Linked DNA regions of Homo sapiens. The gene in region 1 interacts genetically with each later gene. Each region holds a gene or a part of one and is shown in the gene's direction. Other genes may lie near its edges. The genes, in order: RNF40 and KRAS.

What was found.
Region 2: changes in RNF40 (region 1) and KRAS are lethal when combined (synthetic lethality), as found in Homo sapiens cells (3 studies listed by BioGRID, with this or other methods).

Annotation. Positions count from the first base shown.
Region 1 is NC_000016.10:30,760,377-30,764,294, forward strand, and holds the start of RNF40 (E3 ubiquitin-protein ligase BRE1B), read left to right. Parts: upstream 1-1,945; 5' UTR 1,946-1,984; exon of another isoform or gene 1,985-2,022; intron 2,023-2,098; 5' UTR 2,099-2,169; coding exon 2,170-2,301; intron 2,302-2,741; coding exon 2,742-2,909; intron 2,910-3,041; coding exon 3,042-3,183; intron 3,184-3,802; coding exon 3,803-3,918. Other genes in the region: CFAP119 (cilia- and flagella-associated protein 119), read right to left, coding at 1-77, 230-292, 822-853, 1,169-1,372.
Region 2 is NC_000012.12:25,209,074-25,212,991, reverse strand, and holds part of KRAS (GTPase KRas), read left to right. Parts: intron 1-813; coding exon of another isoform or gene 814-814; intron 815-3,080; coding exon 3,081-3,197; 3' UTR 3,198-3,918. UniProt on the Homo sapiens protein: Ras proteins bind GDP/GTP and possess intrinsic GTPase activity. Plays an important role in the regulation of cell proliferation.

The DNA of each region.
Region 1 (3,918 bases):
GGCAGAAGAGGTCCAGGGTGATGGCGTCCCTCAGGCTCTGCTCAGGACACCCTAGCTCCAGCAGCTCAGCCAGCACCCTTGGGAGGGAGAGAGGAGTGAGTGACAACTGGGCCTCCTTTCATCACCCTACACCCACCACATGCTTTGGAGTCAGCCATTCCTCATGTTTTCCCAACCTGACCCCTCAGCCTTTGCCAAGAGCTCTTCCCACGCCCCCCTCAGTCCCTACTCCCTCATCTCAGCATTGGTGGTCTTCTCCAGCTGGTGCATGGAATGGACGTCCAGGTACTTCCTGTTATAGTAAAAGAAAAAGAGTATTGGTGGCCGTTACCTATCATGACAAGGCTGTGACAGCTAGTGCGTGAGACTGGGAGTTGGCCACCGGCGTGAAGCTGGGCTCTTTTGCCAGCTTGCTGTGTGACTATGCAAATCGTTAACTCTCTGGGCCTAAATGAACTCTTATGAGCCTCTCCATTTCTAAAGCCTAGGGTTAGGAATCTTGAATTCTTTTTTCTGCTCTGCCACTACCTTGTATGACCTTGGTCAAGTACTCCCTGTGGCCCTCAGTGTCCCCCTCTGTACAATACTCCTTAGCGGCCATGAGACTCCATTTACATTCTGTCTTTGGCTCTTTTTTTCTCACACTGCCTCCTCTTTGGACTGGAGAGGCTGGAAAGCCAACTTCCAGTCACCTGGAGTAATTGCATCTCCAGGCCTCAGTCTCATCTGTAAAATGGGGATGCCCTGGCCACAGACAGGACTGTTGGGGAGACAATAAAGAACGCAAATATTCAGTGTAATTTTTGTCTCTTCACACTCACCACATGCAGATCCGGGGTCGGGGCAGCGGCGGCTGCGGAAAGAAAGCGAATTGGGGAAGGCAGCTGCGGTGTCCTGGCCCGTAGCGAATCTCCAGCAGGCCGGAGAAGCCGCTGTAACTTGCCATCTCATCTCAAGGACTAAGGAGAGGCGCGGGCGAGGGAGGGCTTCAGCAGGCCCTAGGTGCTCTACGCGAGCACAGTAACCACCGGGGTCACACACCCCTGCCTCTCCTCGCCCAAGCAGCCCGGGAGACGTCCCGAACGTTAGTAAGCATAATGACAGGTGGCGCCTGCGGGGGAGCCGGTTTATAAATATTCACGAGCAGACCAGACTGTCCCGCCCTCACCGGAAACAAGTTGGCTCCGGGGTCTTCATCCGCTTTCGCCGCCGCCGCCGTCGTCCACTGAGTCCGCACACTCGCACGCGTCCGCGCGGCCGACCCATGCACTGAGCTGCGATCCTTCCCCGCTTCCCGCCGCAGCTCGGAGAGATGTTCAAGCTCCGACTGCACCCTCATTCCCAAAAAGTGGCTGGTCTTGCGGTTGAGCATCTCGCCGCTCTTCCGTGCCGCGAGGCGCCCCGGGCTCCCGCCGCCTAGGTTCCAGGACAGCCAGCGCTCGGTCGGCGGCTACCAAGGCCGGGCCCGTTCGCCTCGCTCCGGCCAATCTACGCGCGGAGAGGCGCGGCGGGGCGAATCCGTGGGGGCGTCTCCCTCCGTCTCAACGGCGACGGTTGCCAAGGGGGCTTGTGAGGGAAGGAAGGCGGAAAGCGCAGGCTCACGCCAGTGGGAGCGAAGAGAACGCGCAGATACGTGAGAAGTTGCGAGTGCCCACCTGGGCGCCCTCTCTTCCAGGTTGCTAATACGAGGGCCGGTGCTGTCCTCCAGGCTGGGAAGTGGGAGCGCGGTGTCAGTTACTATGGGAACTGCCTCTTGGCCAATCACCGAGAGAAAGAGGAGGTGTTTGGGAAGAAGCCAGAGGACCCGAGTGGCGGGACCAAGCGTAACCAATAGAAGCAGAAGATAAAGAAGTTTCCTCACATCCGGGGCTGCCTTTGGCGCCTGCGCCCTGCGCACCGTTGGGGGGGGGGCAGTGGCGTCCAGTGACGCCCAGTGACGTCCGGTGAAATCCAAGATGGCGGCGCTAGGCTGACCCTCCTGCTGGTGAGGGCTCTGGCGCCGGGGGGGACGGGATCCAGCAGGTGTGTGCAGGGTGGAGGGTGTTTGGGGCTGTGGAACACCAGCCGTTCCCACATCTCTGCTCTGTGTCTTCTGCAGGTGACGGAAGTACCGCCTCCTCCCGTTTGACGCCCCTCAGGGGACCCTGCATCGCTCCAGCCGCCGCGGCCATGTCTGGGCCAGGCAACAAACGCGCCGCCGGCGACGGGGGCTCAGGGCCCCCGGAAAAGAAGCTGAGTCGTGAGGAGAAGACCACCACGACTCTTATCGAGCCCATTCGTCTTGGAGGCATCTCTTCCACGGTTCGTGGGCTCTTGCCTTAACCCTCAGAACTTCCCAGAGCCCTCCCTCTGTTCTCTGGCCAAACTGTGCGGAATCTTACACCCACTTCCCCAAGTTTAGCAAGGTCCGCGTTACAGGACCTTGAAAGAAAGGTTAGAAAGAAGCTCAGAACACGACGCCTGTCTTCCCTTTACAGATAGGAAAACAGGTTTCCAGGGGGCGTGTGACTTGTCAAAGACTAAGGATTTACAAGGGGACAGGCAGAAACAACGTGAGCCTCCTCACAACAAAGACACTTTCGCTGTGTGTTGTCTGAGCCTCCTTAGATTCTGTTAGCGGTTAGTGTGGGAATACCTCCATCTCCCATGCATTGCAGATGCTCTGCTCCTCTTTCTCTCTCTGTGATTGGTTTGTGGGCCCTGCTTGACGCTCTCGTCGGCCCCTTTGTTTCCTTTGGTAGGAGGAGATGGACCTGAAGGTACTACAGTTCAAGAACAAGAAACTGGCAGAGCGGCTGGAACAACGGCAGGCTTGTGAAGATGAACTCCGAGAACGAATTGAGAAGTTGGAGAAGCGGCAGGCCACAGATGATGCCACACTCCTCATCGTCAATCGCTACTGGGCCCAGGTGGATACCTTCTGCTTTCAAAGACCAGGCCTTGATTCAGCTGCCAATCCCCAGATTCCCCTGCTAGGAAAGGAGTATCATGTTGGAAAGCACTAAGGGATTCATAACATTTTTGATGTTTTCTCCTTCCAGCTGGATGAAACTGTGGAAGCCCTTCTCCGATGCCATGAGAGCCAGGGGGAGCTGTCTTCAGCGCCTGAGGCACCTGGGACCCAGGAGGGGCCAACATGTGATGGGACTCCTCTCCCAGAGCCGGGGACATCAGAGCTGAGAGGTAGGACCAGAGTGCTGGGATCTGGGGAGCTTAAGTTCTGGGAGAAGTCCTGGGGAGGAGGGGACTTTGGTGTTGGGCCCCTGAATTGCCTATCTTACTACTTCTCACGAAATGGATTTCATGTTTGGGCAGTAAAGTGCAGTGCACAAAAACACAGGCTTTAGACTCTGACTAACTTGGTTTATAGAGCAATTCATGTTTTGACACCCATTTGTTTCAAAACAGTATTATGGTTGAGTATTAAATATGTATTTGACGCTTCCTAGAAATGAGTGTTGCACTTGCTATAAGGGAGGAAATTATAAACATAGTAAGCAGAAAGTACTGGGGCTCCTGAAACGGAATGATTGTGTGTGCATGCATGTGCGTGTGATTCTAATTATATTGGTAAAGTACAGGAAGCTTCCCTGAGGATGTGATACGCAACTCTGTAGCTTTGAGGAAATTACTTTACCTCCCTGAATTTCATTTGTCTCACTTTCAGGATGGAGATAATAGTGCACTATAGGTTGTGTTGATTAAGTGAACCATGAGTATTGAAGGGCTCAGTCTGGAACTTGGTACAGAGTGGTAGTAACTGCTGCTCTTATCCTCATGAGGGTCTGTCCATTCCTTCCAGACCCCTTGCTGATGCAGCTGCGGCCCCCTCTCAGTGAGCCGGCCTTGGCTTTTGTGGTGGCACTGGGTGCCAGCAGCAGTGAGGAGGTGGAGCTGGAGCTGCAAGGCCGAATGGAG
Region 2 (3,918 bases), on another chromosome or scaffold:
AGGAGTTTGAGGTTGAAGGGAGCTATGATGGTGCCATGGCACTGTAGCCTAGGCAACAGAAAGAGACTCCATCTCTTAAAAAAAGTAAAAATAAAAAAATTTTGGCACAGGGACAGTGGCTCACACTTATAATGCCAGAACTTTAGGAGTCCACAGCGCGAGGACTGCTTGAGGCCAGGAGTTTAAGACCAGACTGGGCAACGTAATGAGACCCCACCTTTAGGAAATAAATACATAAATAAAAATTTGACAATGATAAACATATATAAATTAGCTTTTCTTAGTCCTGAAAAAGATAATGTTATGTGTATGTGTGAGAATGATTAGTTCTCATATGAGAAAAAAAGAATTCATTGCTCTGTGTAGGTTGTGACATTTCCTTCACGATTGAAATTAATTAATTTTTTTTTATTACTTATTTATTTTTAAAATAGAGACAGGTTCTTGCTGTGTTGCCCAGGCTGGTCTCAAACTCCTGGCCTCAAGCAGTTCTCCTGCCTCAGCCTCCCAAATTGCTGTGACTGTAGGTGTGAGCCACTGCACTGGGCCAAAATTACTTAATTTTAACAAGATGATGTAGAGAGGAGAGTTCATTGCAACATAAGCCTAGAATCTTTGTCAGAATCTTAGGAAGTAATGTTTTCAAATTCTGTGTTTTCACCATAAAATGTGTCTTCTCTGTGTCCATCACATGGTTTTTCATTGTTTTCTGCTTTACCATTTTAGTACCATTGGCATTTTTCTTCATTGTAAAAGTAGTAGAAATGGAGTAGATTACATAAGGATGTGATCAGAGGGAATTTATTCATTCAGGGTAAGGGAGTTAGATCCTCTTTTAAGATTCTATCACATTCTAAGGGTTTATGATTCTAAACTGTCAAGTAAATTGTCAAGTGCTGGCAAGCTACAGAATAATTTTTATTGTATCATTGGAAATTTTCCCCTCTATATGTGTTAAAGAGTTTAGCCTGAAGGGATACATACACATACATATATGTAATCAAACCTTGATGGTATTGTATTGCTGATAAATTATTTCTTACCACTTTTCCTTTCTCCTGTGGGAGAAACAAAAGCATATGTTTGTGTAGTATCAGTAATGATATTAGAGAGTGGGAAACATCAGTGAGTGCAGTTTGGGGACTTTATTGGAGACTTTCACTAGTGCTCAAATAAATAATGCTGGTTTTTATCCTACTGTTTGCTTAATGTGGACTAGCCTCTTATTCCCATTCTATGTTTACCTCTCTTAAAATATTGGTCACGCTTTCTTGAATTATAGATCTATTAGGAAAATTCATGAACTGTAGCTAATTTTCATTGTTCATGCTCCAGATTTATTTTGAAATATCGTTAATCTTAGTAGTACAGTAAAGGAGAAATACCACTTAACATTTTTTGTTTTTTTTTCTTTGAGACAGAGTCATGCTCTGTCACCCAGTCTGGAGTGCAGTGGTGCTATCTCGGCTCACTGCAATGCACTTCGCCTCTCCGGGTTCAGCAATTCTCCTGCCTCAGCCTCCTGAGTAGCTGGGATTACAGGCACCTGCTACCACACCCAGCTAATTTTTGTATTTTTAGTAGAGACAGGGTTTCACCATGTTGGCCAGGCTGGTCTGAAACTCCTCACCTCAAGTGATCCACCCGTCTTGGCCTCCCAAAGTGCTGGGATTACAGGCTTGAGCCACCGCACCCCGCCCACTTAACATTTTAAATTAATTTCAAGATAATATCACTTGAATATTTTTACACATATAATTTTTTTAATACATTTATTTACACAGTTTATAATATCCTACAAAGTGATTACAATGAGTAAAAACCCAGTTTTCATTGTTCCTAAAGTGGCTTGATTTATACAACTTAATGTGTTGGGTATTTGTTTCTAAGACTCCCTCTGCTGTCTAGGTTTGGAAGTATTGTGAGGTTAACAGATTTTCTTTTTATAGTTACTACTCAGTTGAACAGGCTTTAAAATACAGAGAGAATCATATTTTTTCTTCATTTTTTGCTTTTATTTATATTTTTCTTTTAATTGGAGACATGACAAGAATTGACTTGTGTATGGATCTTGCATAATTTAAGTACTGCAGGTTTAAAATCTACTACCAGTTTGAGAGTGCCATTTTTCACACTGTAGATTATTAGGTTGAAAAGTATTATGGCTTAAAATCGCTTTTAGCCATTAAATTTAAATAACCTTGCTTTAATCATAAATAGATGGTGGTCACAATGACTAACTGTTAAACTCTTTGAAGACAGGATATTTGGCTTTATATGGCAAGCTTTTGAATACAACAGAAATTAAAACTTTATGGGATAGAAAGAATCTCCTCCAAATTGGTAAACTATAAGACCTTTCAAATGATTTAGCTAATTTCTCCACAAATCTGAGGTATTAGTGTTTTTTTTAAAGTGGTATTCTCCTGTGTTGGGGTCACTTTAAACCTTTTTCTTAATGATAAATATATGAATTGAAACTAATCCCTTAATATATATCATTTGAAAACTGAAATAATATGTTTAGATACTGTTTACTTGTTGATAAATTATTGGAATAGGATGTTCGAATACTGTTTACTTCTTGGTAAATTTTTAAATCCAATGGATTTTACGTAAGTATAGAACTGGAGCTCAAATACTGTTACTGTGTGTGAAGATATATGAACATAGTTTACAGTTGCATGGCTTATATCTAAAGTCCAGAAACATAAGGACAATTAAGTGTACACACACACACATGCATTTGGATTTTGATGACTTAGGTTTGCCAATGTGGAAAAAATAGTAGCAAATTAAGTTCTCCTGTGAAAAAGTCGTTACCTTATTTAAAATTCTGTGCCATTGGTTATCCTTGTCTTTTGTGAAAATTAGTGTTCCTGTTTATAATATTGACAAAACACCTATGCGGATGACATTTAAGAATTCTAAAAGTCCTAATATATGTAATATATATTCAGTTGCCTGAAGAGAAACATAAAGAATCCTTTCTTAATATTTTTTCCATTAATGAAATTTGTTACCTGTACACATGAAGCCATCGTATATATTCACATTTTAATACTTTTTATGTATTTCAGGGTGTTGATGATGCCTTCTATACATTAGTTCGAGAAATTCGAAAACATAAAGAAAAGATGAGCAAAGATGGTAAAAAGAAGAAAAAGAAGTCAAAGACAAAGTGTGTAATTATGTAAATACAATTTGTACTTTTTTCTTAAGGCATACTAGTACAAGTGGTAATTTTTGTACATTACACTAAATTATTAGCATTTGTTTTAGCATTACCTAATTTTTTTCCTGCTCCATGCAGACTGTTAGCTTTTACCTTAAATGCTTATTTTAAAATGACAGTGGAAGTTTTTTTTTCCTCTAAGTGCCAGTATTCCCAGAGTTTTGGTTTTTGAACTAGCAATGCCTGTGAAAAAGAAACTGAATACCTAAGATTTCTGTCTTGGGGCTTTTGGTGCATGCAGTTGATTACTTCTTATTTTTCTTACCAATTGTGAATGTTGGTGTGAAACAAATTAATGAAGCTTTTGAATCATCCCTATTCTGTGTTTTATCTAGTCACATAAATGGATTAATTACTAATTTCAGTTGAGACCTTCTAATTGGTTTTTACTGAAACATTGAGGGAACACAAATTTATGGGCTTCCTGATGATGATTCTTCTAGGCATCATGTCCTATAGTTTGTCATCCCTGATGAATGTAAAGTTACACTGTTCACAAAGGTTTTGTCTCCTTTCCACTGCTATTAGTCATGGTCACTCTCCCCAAAATATTATATTTTTTCTATAAAAAGAAAAAAATGGAAAAAAATTACAAGGCAATGGAAACTATTATAAGGCCATTTCCTTTTCACATTAGATAAATTACTATAAAGACTCCTAATAGCTTTTCCTGTTAAGGCAGA